4 linked regions of the Homo sapiens genome follow. The protein of the gene in region 4 purifies or fractionates together with the protein of the main gene of each other region. This does not show direct contact. Each region holds a gene or a part of one and is shown on either strand. Other genes may lie near its edges.

Region 1 (3,759 bases), about 63 Mb from region 4:
TCAAATACCACCTGAGGGCTGCATGATTTCTAGGTGGTGGGAACACAGTGTGGACCAGGACAGACAGTGCCCTGCTTTTATAGAGTAAGCAAGGGTGGGGAGTTTTATGCAGGGCGTGTGTGGCGCTGTAGGTGTGTTCCCCACAGACCCAGCCATGCTCAGGAGCCGTAACTGGCTTTTTTCTCTCTGCCTGCCCATGTCAAGGTCCGCCAGCTCCTGGAGGAAGGACGCCTGGAATTTGTCATCGGAGGCCAGGTCATGCATGACGAGGCTGTGACGCACCTTGATGACCAGATCCTGCAGCTCACAGGTTTGGCCACCCTACCCTGCACCCAGGGTCCCTCAGGACCTCCAGTGGGGCTGGGACATGGTATCAGAACCCCCAGGTTCTGAGCTCTGTCTGCCCCTCTTAGTGGGGTCGGGGACCTTAACCAGTGAAAGCAGTGATTTGCTAGTGCCATATTCATGCCTCACCAAGGAAGTTGAATGTAGGGGTTAAGAGCATGGATGCTAGAGTCAGATGGTCTCAATATATCCTGGCTCTGCCAATTCCCTCCTCTGTGACCCTGGAAAGGAATGTAACTTCAGTTTCCTCATAGATAAAATGAGTTTGATGGTAATACCTACCTCAAAGGGTTGTTGTGAGTATTAAATGGGATAATTCAAATAAAGCACTTTAGTAGGATGTGGGTTCCCTAGTAAATGCTCAGTAAGTGTTTGCTGCCTTCCATCACAATTACCACCTTCAGCACCATAATGACCATGACTACTACCATCACCACCACCACCACGATGACCATCACTACCACTACCATCACCACCACCACCACCATCACCATCACCACTACCACCATCACCACCATCACCACCACCATCACCATCACCACCACCACCACCATCACCATCACCAGCACCACCACCATCACCATCACCACTACCACCACCACCACCATCACCACCACCATCACCATCACCACCACCACCACCACCATCACCATCACCAGCACCACCACCATCACCATCACCACCACCACCACCACCATCACCACCACCACCCTTCACCACCATCACCACCACCACCATCACCACCACCATCACCATCACCACCACCATCACCACCACCACCACCATCACCACCACCACCACCACCACCATCACCATCACCACCACCATCACCATCACCACCACCACCACTACCCTTCACCATCACCACCACCACCATCACCATCACCACCACCATCACCACCACCCTTCACCATCACCACCACCCTTCACCACCACAATGACCATCACTACCACTACCATCACCACCACCATCATAACTACCATCACCACCACCCTTCACCACTGCTATGACCACCACTACCACTACCATTACTACCACTACCATCACCACCATCACCACTACCACCATCATCTTCACCACTACAATGACCATTACTACCACTACCATCACCACCACCCCCTAAACACTATCACCATGATCACCACCCATCACTGTCGCCACCACCATCACCACATCCATTACTACCATCCCCTCCACAATCATCATCACCACCACCATGACCATCTCCCTCACCATTGTGTCCACTGTCCTCAGCACCATCACCCACAGTGCCGTGGGGCACTCTACTCACCATTTACCAAATGCCTTTCACAGTGACACCCCAGCCAATCCTAATGGCGGGCTGATGGTGAGGCATGGTGATGCCCAGTTTCATTTTGCAGATGTAGAAACTGAGATCCAAAGAAATGCAGTAACTCTCTCCAGGGTAGATGGCCAGGACTTGAGTCCAGGCCTAGGGACTGAAGCTCCGAGTCCACAGTCACTCCACTACAGCATGGGCCCTGATTTCCCCATTTGTAAAACATCCAGGCAGAGAGCAATGTTGTCAAAGGATGTTTTTGGCACTCTCCCTTTTCTCATCTGTAATCTGGAGTGTTCCCCTGTCTCAGTTTCTTACTGCCTTACATCTGGACTTTGCTCAAACCCTAGACTTGCCCTTCCATGAGAAGGAGGCGTGATGGACACAGCCCTACAGACAGAGCTCCTCCTGTGGCCAGGAGCTCAGCCCCTGCTTGTCCCCCTGCATCCCCACAGGCCCAGAGGTAACAGGGGAGGACAGCAAGGCTCAGAGGGAGCACCTTGCCCTCAGCCGCCTGCTGTGGCTCCCTGACTCCAGAGCCCCTGCTCTTTCACTCCCCCATGTGAAGTGTGGGCAAGGGATCTATCCCAACAGACTTCCCCCACACCCCTTCACAAGCCCACTGCCAGGGAATGTGTGACACTGTAGGCGTGTCCCCCACCTGCCTCCTGCCCCGTGCCAGCGAGGAGGCTCTGGGGCTGTTTCTCACCTGTGCCATTTCACGCAGTGCTCCCCCTCATTCTCCACCCTCCTCCTCAAGATGCAGCTGAGAAGCCCCTCCCGCAGGAAATCTCTGAGTCTCTGCAGTTCTGTGTCACCTCCCCACTTAACCGCTGAACCTCAAGATGCCCCTGGCAGGGACCCCCATCTGACTCATCTCAGCACCCAGCATAGGGTCTGGCCCAGACCACTGCTTACTGGGCAAGGCTGGGCAAGGGGTGGGCGCTGAACTGCCCTGCCCTGAGGGTACCCACCACTGGGGTACCTCGCCTCTGGCCTCAGCCCACCGTGCCTAAGTGCTGATACCCCAGCGCTGACCCTGCAGGTCTGACCTGGCAACTGGAAGCCTCAGGGAAGCTGAGGCTGTGTCGCTCTGGGGCAGGAAGAGCCTCCAGAGACACAAGAGACAGCGGCTGTTGTGAGGCTCCATTTCCAAACCTGTCCAAGCTCATGGGGCCCTCAGGGTACAGACATGTGGGTTTCTTTCATGATAACCACCTTGTTCTAGGTACAAGATGTACACGTATTTTTTTTTCAGTCCTCAGGGCAATCTGGTAGATGGGTAATCTTACAAATGCTTATTTGTAGAGAAGTTTGAGGCTCAAATGCTATCCAAATGTGCCCACCACCAGCTAAGTGATGGGACCCAGATCCAACCCTAGCCCGGCCGAGTCAGGAAGGTTACTTGTGGCTGAGCCCCTCTCACTGGCGGCTGAGCCAAGCCCTTTCCCATCTGCTATCTCTTAGTTGCCTCAGAACAGCCTGGTAGCAAGTGGTACTGTTCACAGCCCCATTTGACAGATGAGGAAACTGAGGTACTGAGAGATGCGGGATTTATATATATGCAGTAGGTAACAGAACTGGCGCTCAAGCCCATGTGTGCCTGGCCTGGGCTCTTTCCTTAACTTGTAGTCCCTAGGGCGGGGGCAGAGTGTGTGTATCAGACCACCCATCTCAGATGTCCCAGGCATTCTGGCTGTGAATTATGTCCACATTGGGCTGGTTTTCTCAGATATGTTGGGGTAAGAGGGGCTGGATCACCCCTCACTGCTTCCGGGCCCTTTATCCTCCATCTCACCTTGGTGGAGCCCCTGCCTCGAGGCAGGCCCTGGACAGCAAAGGAAGACAGGAGCAGGCTGGTGCAGCCTCTAGACCTCTGACCTTCTTCTTCGGGTATCTAGGGTGCCAAAGCATCTCCTCAACCAAGACCCACTCCTGGCTGCCCGCCAGGGCCTGGGGCACTGGGCCTGCCCGTAAGCTCACCTTTCCAGCCTTTACCTCCCCAACTCCTGCTCCCGGCAGTCACGCCAACACCACCTTAATTTTAGATGTGACATTTCTAGTGAGGGGAAAAGCATTTGTTCCCAGCACTGCAGTGTCAGGGAAAGGCTGG
Region 2 (3,759 bases), on a different chromosome or scaffold from region 4:
TTCTGTGCTAAGGCAATCACCAGTACACCCTTCCATTGTATACCACCCGCTCCTCCTTACAAGTAACATGGCCCGCATCCCAGGGTGCTTAGAATGCCTGAGCTAGAGAGGATGTTAGGAGCACCAAGCCCAACCCCACACTGTTAACAGGTGGCAAAACTGCGGCCCAGGAAAAGGGACAAGCCCAAGGTAAGCAGGCTATTTAGGAGTAGAGGTGAGACTAGGAGGCAGGTTCTCTAGATTTCAAATCTGGTGTTCTTTTTCTTAAGGGCATACCTCCTTCCTGTACTTCATGATGTTCATATCCTCAGTAATATGTTTAATGATAAGAATATGCTTAGCAAACATTGCTAACTATCTAGGATGCAAGAAGACAATCAGCTGGGAAAATAGGGAAAGAAGGTGAAGTTCCTGCCTTGGGATGAGGTTCCTGTGATCAGCACAGTTTCCATGTAAAGATTTGAGGGCTGTAAACCTAAGCTGTAACCTCAGTGGCTGCATGAAACCTGTAAGCACTGTTGAGTCCCAGATAGTCAGAGCTCAGAAGAGTTCATAGAGATGATCTAGTCCAACCCCCTCATTTCACAATTGGGAAGATTAAAGCCCAGAGAGGGGCAGTGACTTGACCAAGGTCTCATGGTTACGAGCTAACAAGGCTATCTGCCATCTGGCTCCAGAGCTCAGCTTCCTAACAAGTGCCTTGGAGTGACTCCACCTGCATGGGCTCTTGGACAAGGCAGCCCCATGCCCCCTCCCTACCCATCCCTTTATGCAGCCTTAGCAGCTCCCTCTCCAGCAGGCAGAAGGGCTGGGTCTGGCTGGTGCTTAGACACACACCCCAGTTCCAACCCACTTTGCCTCCCTTAGCCAGGACTCTTCTGGCAAAAACCCAAAAACCTTCCCGGAGCCAGGGTGATGACATTACCTACCTTCATCTGCTTGATGGTGTAGACCAGCGTGCCGAAGGGCCCCTCCTTTACCAGCTTCTTCCCCACCACCTTGGCCCGGATCACTGCAGAGACAGAAGGAGACAATAAGAGGTTAGGAAGGCCTGAACCACATCAGGAACAGCATCTCAGGGCGGGCACGCTAGCCTCTGTGGAGCCTGGAATTGCACTCTTACCTTGGAGCCAACTGGAATAGATGATTGTGTTTACAAGAGTGGGAATTCCCTGGGGTGAGAGGGAGGTTGGAGGAAAAAGAAACAGCCACCATTCAAGTTAATTACCCCAAATATTCACAATTGCCAGCTCCAGAACTTCCAAGGCTATAGTCAACCCCCGCCGACCCTGAGGATTTTCTTGACTTTGTGACTTTACCATAATCCAAAACCTACTTCTCCTGTTAGAGCCATTGTCCCCCCTCCCTTGTCCATCTGACAATGCCATGGTCTCCCAGATCTGTTCTCTTTCCACTAGGACCCCTTTCTAACCACCTCATTTGGGGCTCTTCCTTTGCATGCATTAATTCACCACATCTTGACATGTCTACAGGGTTGTGGTGCACCCTAGCTTCCCACAGTGCCCCCAGTTAGCATTCTGATTGAGCCCTTGGTATCCAGTGCTTAGATAGCAAGGGATGCAATAGAGTCTGAGCTCTATGGGGATGTGGTTAGAAGAAGGAGCAATTGGGAGTCGGGGCTCAGGAGCCAGACAGAACTGTTCCAATCTCAGCTCTGCTGTTTATGGCTATTGCGACTGTATGCAAGTAAGTAACTTTGTTTCTGGCCTCCTCTTCTATAAAACAGGAATCATAATGATACTAATCTCTTGAACTGAAGGGATTAGTCAAGATGACAAATGTGAAACTCTTGATACTGTCTTGGACATAGTTTGCACTAGACAAATATTATTAATATCATCATCATTATCATCACCAAAAATGAAATGGGCTAACCATGGAAGGGCTGTTCCAATGAAAACAGCTCCCATTTATTGCACACCTACTATGTGCCATGTACATTTCACTTATTTACTGCTCTTAACTGTCTTACAAGGGCAGTATTAGCATCCACATGATCTAGATAAGGTAACAGACCAAGAAGTGAAACCACTTCCTCTTTCTGAGCCTCAATTTTCTCATCTATAAAGAGGGTATAACTCTCTTTACATCAGGGAATTGGAATCAGGATTGAACGAAAGATCTTATGAAATTTCCCACTACAATGTCTGGCAGAAAGGATTTACCCAGTAGATACTAGTTAACTATGAATACAAAAGTAATTACACCCAGTGGGTTGAGGGCTGAAAGAGAGGCATTTACCACATGCACTGGGAACAGAAAGAGGAGAGGACTTGACTTTTAGATTCTACAAGGTTGTGCTTCTCTTTCTACGTTGTGTGAAAAAGAAGCACCCAAGAGCTGTCTTCAGGTATTTGTAAAATTGGCACATGGAGGAGCAAATGGACAGGTCTTGAATACCAAAACTGGAAATTGCAGAGAGTAACATTCATTGGCTCAACCAAAGAAAAAAATCGTCTAATAATAAGAACCAGCAACAAAAGGCAGGGGGGCTGCCATTAGGGCAGAGAGTGCCTCTATCAGGGGGTGTGATGAGGGTGCTGGATACTTCCATGCTAAGACCTCAACAGGAATTGGAATGGGGCTTGCTTATGCAGTCATACTTTGAATTACAAATTGAACTCCTTCAGCCCTGAGATCCTATCAATCTTTCTTATCTCAAGTTGCACTTAGCCCAAAAAGGAGTAGATACTCAATAAATGCTTGTTAAGTAAAATACCCTTCACACACACAAACACAAACACACACACACACATTTTGGTAGCTCCATTATCCTTCCTCATTGTGGATGCTCCACTATGTATCCCAGTTATTTGACTCTAATCTCTGTTTTTAAAAAATCTTTACTAAGAACTGATTCCTCATCCATACTGGATTCTGTCTTGTTTCTTTCCAAATGAGCTTGGATCCTACCCTTGCAGTCAGACATGAAGTCAGGGTTCAGATGAATCAATGGCCCCTTCAGACCTTCCCTGCCGGCGATGGCAAAACACACAGTCATTGGCAAAGTGAGCAATTTAGCGGAGGCAGCTCAAATTAGGAGGAGGCGAGTGGTTGTTTCCAAGTCTGCTGTAAAAACGAGAGGTTGGCAAGATCCCAGGCCAATGTCTGTCAAGATCCTGCATCCACCTCTGTTTCTAACATTGCGGTAGTATTCTCGGCGACAAGCCAGCCTCCCGGAGGCCCCGGGGACTGTTTCCTCCATATTAACTCTCACAGGCAGGTTATAACAGCTTCACCTCCGTGCAGAGGCATGTCTGCCAGCCTTTACCACTGATTCTTCCTGAAATGATTTGGACCCATCTTCTCTGCCTCATTAACACAGAAGGTAAACAAGGGAGCGAGTCTTGGCCGGGGGGTGTGGGAGGGGCAAGGCAAAAGGGATTCCTTTAAATAGCAACATCCTGGTTCAAAAATGGCTTGACTTGATTTAGACAGAAGATGTCACAAGCAGACCTGCCCCATAAAGCTGAGTACTGCTGGAAGCTTCTGCACATACAACCAGCCAACTCCTTCCTTACCCCAAATAGCCTGAGCTTGGAACCTTTTCATCTGAGGATAGTTCAGTGAAAAGAATACGTTTTTGTAGTCAGGAAGCTGCATTGAAGTTTGGGTTCCACCATTACTGTATGATCTCTCTGGGGCTCTTTCCTCCTGAATCTCTCTGGCTTTCTTAGCCCAGTGCCTCTCATGTGGCTAACAAGTGATTTGCTTATTACTATTGGAGCAGCAACATAG
Region 3 (3,759 bases), on a different chromosome or scaffold from region 4:
GGAGCCTTCTCCAGCCCCTTGGGAGGCCGCCCCGGGAGGTCCGCGCCCTGAGCCCTGCGCCCCCCCACCCCCCAGGTGTACCTGTCCTTCGTTTATCCCAACGACTACACTCGCCTCACCCACATGGAGACGGACAACAAGTGCTTCTACCGCGAGTCTCCGCTGTATCTGGAGAGGTGGGCGCGCGGCCGGGCTAATGCGGGGCGGGGTGGGCGGGGCGGGACTCGGCTCTGATGCCCCGCCGCGCCCCAGGTTTGGGTTCTATAAATACATGAAGATGGACAAGGAGGAGGGGGATGAGGATGAAGAAGACGAGGTGCAGCGCCGAGCCTTCCTCTTCCTCAACCCGGACGGTGAGTGTCCGCAGCGCCCCTGGCCCGCACCCACCTGCGCAGGGAGCTTCTAACCCGCGTTTCCCGCAGACTTCCTGGACGACGAGGACGAGGGGGAGCTGCTCGACAGCCTGGAGCCCACCGAGGCGGCCCCGCCCAGGAGCGGCCCCCAGTCCCCCGCCCCAGCAGCCCCCGCCCAGCCCGGAGCCACCCTCGCCCCGCCGACCCCTCCCCGCCCCCGGGACGGGGGGACCCCCAGGCACTCCCGGGCCCTGAGCTGGGCCGCCAGGGCCGCCCGCCCTTTGCCGCTCTTCTTGGGCCGAGCTCCGCCCCCGCGCCCTGCAGTGGAGCAGCCGCCCCCAAAGGTGTACGTGACCAGGGTGCGGCCGGGACAGCGGGCATCCCCCCGGGCCCCAGCGCCGCGTGCGCCCTGGCCGCCCTTCCCTGGCGTCTTCCTGCACCCCAGGCCTCTGCCCAGAGTGCAGCTGCGGGCGCCCCCACGCCCACCCCGGCCCCACGGCCGCAGGACCGGCGGCCCCCAGGCCACACAGCCGAGGCCCCCAGCCCGGGCGCAGGCCACCCAAGGGGGCCGGGAGGGCCAGGCGCGCACGCTGGGACCTGCGGCGCCCACAGTGGACTCAAACTTGTCCTCCGAAGCGCGGCCCGTGACCTCCTTCCTGAGCTTGTCCCAGGTGTCCGGGCCGCAGCTGCCCGGGGAGGGCGAAGAGGAGGAGGAAGGGGAGGACGATGGGGCCCCGGGCGACGAGGCCGCGTCGGAGGACAGCGAGGAGGCCGCGGGCCCGGCGCTCGGACGCTGGCGTGAGGACGCCATCGACTGGCAGCGCACGTTCAGCGTGGGCGCCGTGGACTTCGAGCTGCTGCGCTCGGACTGGAACGACCTGCGATGCAACGTTTCGGGGAACCTGCAGCTGCCGGAGGCGGAGGCCGTGGACGTGACCGCTCAGTACATGGAGCGGCTGAACGCGCGCCACGGCGGGTATGGGGGCGGCCGAACGCGCGCCAGGGCGGTTTTGGAGGCGGGGACAGCCGGGGAGAGGAGGTCCTGGCCTTGGCGGACTCCTCAGACCTTCCCCAGGGCCCAGTGGTGTACCGGCCTGGGGGCTGAGGCACCGCGCCCCACCCCAGGGAAGCCCCAGCTTCTCTCCTTCCTTCCTGGCGTCCTGACTGCCCGGGCACTTGTCCAGCCTCAGGGACCTCCCTGGAGCCCCACCCAGGGCTGGCGCCCCATCCTTGCACCTGTGTACCCCACTTCTGTCATCCTGGACCTGGGCCCAGGGATGAGTCCAAGCTGCAGAGATCAGCGTCAGTCGCATCCAGTTGCTGCGCAGACAGCCCCATTCCGGGGGGGCCAGGCAGAGACCCTTAGGGCAAAGCTCAAGACCCCTGGGCCCCTCCTCCTCTCCCCTCGCAGTGCCCCTGGGCGTTCCCAGACTGTCAGGACCCGACTGCAGAGGAAGGTGCAGGGCTTCTGCCCCATTGGCCCCTCTGGTCTCCCTGAGGCCCCAGGAATCTAGTGCTGTCTGCCCTCCCTGCAGGCTGGTGGGCAGGAGTGGGGAGTCTAATTTGGCCTTGGGGAGGCCTGTGGAGTTCTAAGAAGAGGCAGTGTCTGCTGTGCCCAGCCTTGAAGGCGAGTTAGGAGTTGCACAGTGATGACAGGCAGAGGCAGGGGCAGAGGATGGAGGCAGAACCGGGACTGTTTCTCCTGTGCGTGATGGAAGGTTGCGAGCAGAGCAAAGCCAGGGGCAGAGGATGGAGACAGGGCCAGGACTGTTTCTCATGTGTGTGATGGAAGGTTGCGAGCAGAGCAAAGGCAGGGGCAGAGGATGGAGGCACAGCTGCATGTGACTGTTTCTTGTGTGCATGATGGAAGGTTGCGAGCAGAGCAGGAATTCCACCGGTTTGGGTGCAGACAGGTATGCCTCTGCCTGGAGGGGAAGGGAAGGTGGTGGTGGTGACTGACAGCCTGGAGCCCTGGGCGGTGGGTGCTGGATTCTAGGTGGCTCAGAGGGCACGCCTGCCCCGGCTCTAAGCTTCCTGAGAGCAGCTCGTCATTTCTTGGGGGCCTCATGGGAAGATCATGGTTGTGGCCCCACCAATGCCCACCTGGGTATGGCTCAAGGAGCAACAGTGTAGAGAGACCAAGAGCATTTGGGGCAGGAGGTCCCTGACACTCAGGGCTTTGGGGTGGGGAAGGACAGGAGTTGGAGGGAGGCCTTGGACCCTCAGCTGTCACACAGGTGGGCGTCCCCCAGTGAAAGGCACAGACTGCCAAGGGAGGACGTGAGGCCGACTGAAGAGAAACCATCGTCTAGGGCAGGGTCCTGTTTTCTCCAGATGAGGAGAGCAGAGTGGAGGGAAACTGAGGTTCTTGGCCGAGTGGAATGAGGAGGAAGGGGCCAGGAACGGGCTCCCAGCATGGAAGCAGCCTCCTCCACTCAGGGATCAGGACAGGAGCGGAACTGCTGCCTGGGGGAAAGGGGTGCTGTGAAGGCACGATTGGGGGCTTCTCAGAAGAGGTGACCCAGGGCCTGGAAGAGGAGTGGCTGGGAGGACTGGGGCAAACATCCCAGGCAGGGGACTCCTCAGGACAAAGGAGAGGAGACAGTGGCTGTGCCTGAGGAGGAGTCTGCTACCCCAGTATGAGGGGAAGGTTGAAAGCCACAAAATCAAAACTGCTTAAGGTCCTAGAATGCCACAAAAGCCCCTTGGAACCTTGTCCTATGGGCGGTGGCTAACTCCTGAAGGTTTCTGAGCAAGGGGGTAACAGGACAGGCGGGCATGTCATAAACGTCACCTGGGACGTGAGTGGTGGCCAGGAGGCCCGCGAGGAGGTGAGGATGGGCCTGGGCTCGCTGGTGTGCCCCCAGTCCTGCCCCGACCCTGGAGGGGGTGGCTGGAAGGTGGACCTGCCTGCTGGGCCAACCTGGAGGGGCAGGTGCTGTGCCGCGGAGCCCGCAGCCTCCGCCAACTCCAAGTCGGCTGAGTTTCTGTGGCCAGGGCGGACCAGGGTTGCGGGCGGGGTGCAGGCTGGAAGCCCCAGTACCGGCTGACCGCTGAGCCTTGCAGGCGCTTCGCGCTTCTGCGCATCGTGAACGTGGAGAAGCGCCGGGACTCGGCGCGAGGGAGTCGCTTCCTGCTGGAGCTGGAGCTGCAGGAGCGCGGGGGCGGCCGCCTGCGACTGTCCGAGTACGTCTTCCTGCGGCTGCCGGGAGCCCGCGTAGGGGATGCAGACGGAGAAAGTCCCGAACCCGCTCCCGCCGCCTCCGTGCGCCCCGACGGCCGCCCCGAGCTCTGCCGGCCACTGCGCCTGGCCTGGCGCCAGGACGTGATGGTTCACTTCATCGTGCCAGGTTCGCAGGGCGGGCTCGGGGTGTCCGGGAGACCTCGTGGAAGGAACATGGACCCT
Region 4 (5,530 bases):
GATTAATCTAGAATTGGTTAAATTCTAAATGGTTTATGAAATGTTTACTTCATGGGTTTATAAGCATGGTAATTGTTAGAATTTTTAATGATAAGATTGAGTTTTAACAAAATCTGCGAAGGACAAAGTAATTGGTTAAAAAAATAATTTGGACATCACAGATGGCCAGATAAGATTGTTTGCCCAGAAATAATTTTGTCAATTTGTCTCTGACAAACAATTGCTTTCTTACTTCTTTTGGATAGCTACTCACATACTAAAACTAGAATAGTGCCACATATACACTGCCTTGTACAATGAGACCTTAAGGGATATGTAATCCTCACGGTACAAGTTTTCATAATTTTTTAAATTAGTTGGGACACAGAATTAATATCAAAATTATTTACCTCACTCGATGAACTGATGCTGGATTCCATCTTCTAAAAGAAAGAAATCTAGTGTTAATTATCCCCTGGGATTTTTAGAATTTGAAGGAAACTAGTTCCATGTCATCATGGTGAAATGCTTACCATGGTAACATTATAACTGAATAAGTGGTATGGAAAAATTCAGGCGTACTACATTGTATTTTCTTGGAGTGTGAATTTTACTTGAAAAATTATGGTGGTAGGTTTAATAACTTATCTGGGAACATAAAAACTTAAAAACAATTGTTTTTAATTTAGGAAAACAAACACAAGTTTATCATTGAGTAGAATGCAAAATTTGCATAGATTTTTGTGACAAAAATGAAACCTCTAAGAAAGAACCATATTTAGCTGGGTACCCAGAACCCTGGGTTAAACATCTGTTCTCATCTGTCCTTGGGGCTTCTTTGATGTGAATAAAATGGAAACATTAAATACAATGCACAATCTTAAGATGAAATTAAAATTACATTAGATTTTAAAATATTTACTTTGAAATATTTACTTTTTCTTCAAAGTCATTTATGTTTATATTTATATATACATATAATTTTACTTTCCAAATACATACATATTTTAACAGATTAATTTTAATATTCAACAGACTTTATCTCTGGGGATGGTTGATTAACCATATGTAATAAGTCAGCATTTAAAAAAATATAATTGTAGAGTAGGTAGTATAGCTCACTGATCCTAGGTAATTGCTGCCATAGATTCTTTCTGCCCAAGGAGAGGGAGAGGGGCGTGGGTTGACAAACTATTAAGTTGGTGCAAAAGTAATTGAGGTTTTTGCCATTACGCTGTAAAAACTGCAATTACTTTTGCACCAACCTAATAGTATTGCCATTATTTTTAATGGTAAAAAGCACAATAACTTTTGCACCAACCTATACCTGTTGGGTAGTATGCTCACTACCTGTGTCTAACATACTCATGTAAAAATCTTACATACATACATGCACTTGTATCTAAAATAAAAAAGTAATCTCATGCCCTGGGATGTCAGAGTCAGTGTTCTGTGGGACTCTCATTTTAAACATCCATGCACCTTTTGTTTTTATTTTATATTTTAATGAATAAGCATTTTTTTACTAATTATTATTTAAATGGCTTAAATTCCGTCTTCCAATTTCAACTTTATCTAGCACAACATTGTACATTCTTGAGTATAATATTCCTGTTTGAGAAGTTCAATAAGTTAAAATTAGAATAGGATTAATTTAAAATTAAAATGTTAACATTTTAAAATTCAGTTTCTTATTTTGCTTAATTTCAGAAGACAGTCTTTTTAAAATGAAGCATGCTGCATATACTATGTTTGATACGTAAGTGTAGAGTTCACTAGAATGAATGGGTCTTACCTCAGGCTCTGCCACAACACAGTTCTTAAGAAAGAAAAAATAATCAATTTCATTTTTCATGACAAATAGTCAAATACAAAAGTAATGATTACCAAATAAAATGGATGTCAAAGAAAATAGAAAACTGAGACAATATAAAAGTAATAAGAAAAACTAAAAAAACTGCCTACTTTATCTCTGAGCCAAATGAATCTGCATTTTGAAGTTTAAATAAAACGTTTCGGATTCTTCTATATTGTAGCAAATCAGTGAAAACAAGTTTACATTTTCCTTTATCCAGCATGACTTTTTGCTTTCCCTCTTTTAAAACTTGGCTTCTGGACTCTGAGCAGGACACTGCACTGAAGCTCATGCAGTAAATACAACTGGACTAAAGGAGAGCACTGATTTAATGGTGTGTAAATACCTAAGCAAAAGAACTTGCTCCATCTAGTATGTTTTGCTCAGTTTTCACGACTACAGCAATACAGAGATCAGTGACATTATCCATAGAATTTAAATTTAAAATATTTGTGTTGGTTTGGTTATTCTGGCCAATGTATGATACACTATTTCTTTTCTTTCTTTGAATTAGAGTTATCTGCCATAGTTTTTATTTAAAATAATAATTTATTTGGGGAAATATGTATTGTTTCTTTTCCTCATATTGGTTTAATAATTTTAAAACAAAGGGTCTCACCTGAGTAGACTCATTCCTAGTATCCTGCCAAGACAGTCAATCAGTTAGGTATGACAGATTGTTAAGAAGATATATATTTTATCTCATAAAGTTTGAGCACCTGCTCTCTCAATACCAATTCTACTAGAAAACTAGTAGACAATCCAAATCAAAGATGTTATGGTTAAAGAAAATAATTGAGTATGACTATGTAAATATTCTTGAGCCAGATATTGTATTACTTCATATAATACCCTTGATAAAGCATTCCTTTAATTTTGGTGATAAATGTGAATACATAATTGCATTTATTTGTTTATTTGTTATTTCATTCATTCACACTAATGCCTTGTTTCATCACAGTTGCACAATTAAGTCAATGAAATCATTTTCTTCAGAATTCTCAGCAGACTCCATTAGTCACTACAAATGTATGAGTGAAAAGTTCAAGGAAAGGACAAAACCATAGAAAAATGCTTTTTTTTCCTAAAGGAAAACTTTTTTTCTACTACAAGAATATATACTTTTGCCATACTCTTTCAAGAAAAACTTTGGTACCTTGATTTCATCAGTCTGTTTTTCTCTCAGAATGTTTCTCTGCTAAAATCAATAAAGTGTACCTTGTAAAATATGTTTTCATGAAAACAAACTTTTAACATAATTTAAATTTCATTGATGTTTCTTACCCTGTTCATACCATTCATGTATTCCTTAGGGATAAAAAAGAAAACATAAACAATATTAGTGAAACAAGACATACATGAGTGGAAATCTATGAGAAACTGTACTTCACATCGTGCTGATACAAATTTAAAAATAAATCCATTTTTCCTGAATGAACTAATATTCCTTATTATATCATTTCTAACCTTAAGTGGTCTTTCTCACTACACAATTAAGTCAATCAAATCAGTAGTCTTCAGAATTCTCAGCAGAATTCATTAGTGCTGATACAAATTTAAAAATAAATTTATTTTTCACAAATGAACTAATATTCCTTATTGTATCATTTCTAACCTTTAAGTGGTGTTTCCCTACTCCTTCTTTGTGTAAGGCTAGTATGTAAATGTGCATTTAACAATATTTTTAAGTTTGTTCCACTCAAATTTGTTATCCTTGACTTTCACTTTGTTTTAGGCACTGTTCTGAGTCTCCTGATCTTAACACTTACTTCTCTTTGTTAATTGCACGGTAAATTCTGTGGAGTCATTCTTACCTCTCTTGATTCTAATGGTATAGGCTACAAAAAAAAAAGTTATGTTAAAATTCATTCATAGTTGAGTTATCTATCAAATCATTTAGATAATGTCCTTGAATTAAAACGTTATGTTCTTCTATTCAACAATTAAGTCAAAAATTATAGAGAATGTGACACATATGTATTATTTATAGTTAAGAGCATTCTATTATAAGGAGTGAGGAAATTGTAAACCTCTACATACGTCACGGAAAGGAGAGCAGAGTGTTTTGGAGAGGCAAACGTTTAGGTACAAATTAAAATATAAAGCAGCTCTTTAACATATACATATCTTGTTTTTATATTCTTTCTGGGTGTTTGGATGACTGAATGAAGGGAAGGGTTGATTAACTTAGGTTAAACAACAACAACAACAAAAAACCACTTTGTTTTAAGGCAATTTCTTGCTCTGTTGCCCTTGTGCTATCACGACTCATTGCAGCTTTAACCGCCCATGCTCAAGTGACCCTCACACCTCAGCTTCCCAAGTAGCTGGAACCACAAGTGCATGCCGCCACATCCGACTATTTTTTTTTTTTTCAAAATTTTTTTTGTAGAGACGGGGTTTGGTTATGTTGCTTAGGCTCATCTCGAATTCCTGGGCTCAAGCAATCCTCCTGCCTCAGCCTCCCAAAGTGTTGGGATTACAGGTGTGAGCCACAGCACCCAGTGAAAAAAACATTTTTATAAACAAAAATTAAATAATTTTTCCCATAAAAGTATGTTTCTTCTTTTAAGAATAAGTGGATAACACTTACCAGAAGAAGCCTGAGAAACTTTCCTTCTTTGATAATTTCTTATTGAAATTAAATTGTGAATTATAAAAATAATAAAAACACCAAAAAACCACATTATTCTCATTTGAACACAAATGCTCCATTTAATTCGGTAAACCAACAGATTTCTTAGCTAGAAGAACAAATAATTAGTTTTAGTTTTATGATCTAATTTTACAATCTAAAGAACACCTACACCTTAATTAGTTCCTTCTTCACCAGGCCAGTAAATTTAATAAGTCTATGCTTACCAAAATGGCTAAGAAGTCAAATAGGAATTTCATCAAAACAGAATTTAGAGAGCAATCCAGGTACTTGAGTTGTTGGATGCATTTGAAGGGAAATAAAAATTGTAAAGAAGAAGACATTCAACATGCATGACAGCTAACTGAAAGAGAGCAAAAGGAAGAGAGAATCCTGACTCCCCATAAACAGAGCTTACCTCACTGCTCTCTGATGGATTCTGTAAAAAATAATAATTTTTAAATGGTATTATTCCAATTGCAGGACAGAATGTAGGATTAGTTGTGCTCATAGAAAGTTGTGGTAGAGGTAACTAATTCAAGATTCAACATATCAAATGAGACCAAACTGTAAATCACATGCTTGAATATGTGTAACATTGAAAAAAGCAAGAATACATTAAAATAAACATGTTAACACATTCTGTTTAATTAACTATTTCTCTGGAATAAAAATAAGATTTTTATTAACATAAATGTTTATCTAAGTCAGTGTGCCGTCCTCTAAGTTTTGTGAGAGCAAATACCATCTGACAGTGCTTGAACTAAAGAAATGATGCGTCAGCAAAAGTGAAGCAGGCTGTTTCATAGAGAAGGGAAGCGCACATTTGGAGTTTGTGCTTCACAATTAGAGTGAGTTCTTGGAATGCAGAATAGAATATTTACCTGAAGGCGTTCTGGGTATCTAAGAGGAAGTTTCTGTGAAAAACAATGCAAGAATTGTAAAACAAAAAGTAACTAAAATGACAATAACAATATAATAATACACATATAATACGATGATTTTTGACACTGCCATTTTCAAAAGGTATGTGTTTTAATAGCAATATTTGTCAGAGACCA

The links. The genes of interacting proteins can lie anywhere in the genome.
Region 1: the proteins of CSN1S1 (region 4) and MAN2B2 purify together in Homo sapiens (affinity purification with mass spectrometry; one large-scale study listed by BioGRID and IntAct). This does not show direct contact.
Region 2: the proteins of CSN1S1 (region 4) and TIMP3 purify together in Homo sapiens (affinity purification with mass spectrometry; 2 studies listed by BioGRID and IntAct, with this or other methods). This does not show direct contact.
Region 3: the proteins of CSN1S1 (region 4) and B4GALNT4 purify together in Homo sapiens (affinity purification with mass spectrometry; one large-scale study listed by BioGRID and IntAct). This does not show direct contact.

Annotation. Positions count from the first base shown.
Region 1 is NC_000004.12:6,578,189-6,581,947, forward strand, and holds part of MAN2B2 (epididymis-specific alpha-mannosidase isoform 1 precursor), read left to right. Parts: intron 1-204; coding exon 205-310; intron 311-3,759.
Region 2 is NC_000022.11:32,846,705-32,850,463, reverse strand, and holds part of TIMP3 (metalloproteinase inhibitor 3 precursor), read right to left. Parts: intron 1,013-3,759; coding exon 930-1,012; intron 1-929.
Region 3 is NC_000011.10:375,999-379,757, forward strand, and holds part of B4GALNT4 (N-acetyl-beta-glucosaminyl-glycoprotein 4-beta-N-acetylgalactosaminyltransferase 1), read left to right. Parts: intron 1-75; coding exon 76-176; intron 177-252; coding exon 253-353; intron 354-422; coding exon 423-1,329; intron 1,330-3,419; coding exon 3,420-3,703; intron 3,704-3,759.
Region 4 is NC_000004.12:69,934,068-69,939,597, reverse strand, and holds part of CSN1S1 (alpha-S1-casein isoform 1 precursor), read right to left. Parts: intron 5,387-5,530; coding exon 5,354-5,386; intron 4,909-5,353; coding exon 4,888-4,908; intron 3,673-4,887; coding exon 3,649-3,672; intron 3,143-3,648; coding exon 3,119-3,142; intron 3,033-3,118; coding exon 2,991-3,032; intron 2,478-2,990; coding exon 2,454-2,477; intron 1,799-2,453; coding exon 1,775-1,798; intron 423-1,774; coding exon 390-422; intron 1-389. UniProt on the Homo sapiens protein: Important role in the capacity of milk to transport calcium phosphate. Casoxin D acts as opioid antagonist and has vasorelaxing activity mediated by bradykinin B1 receptors.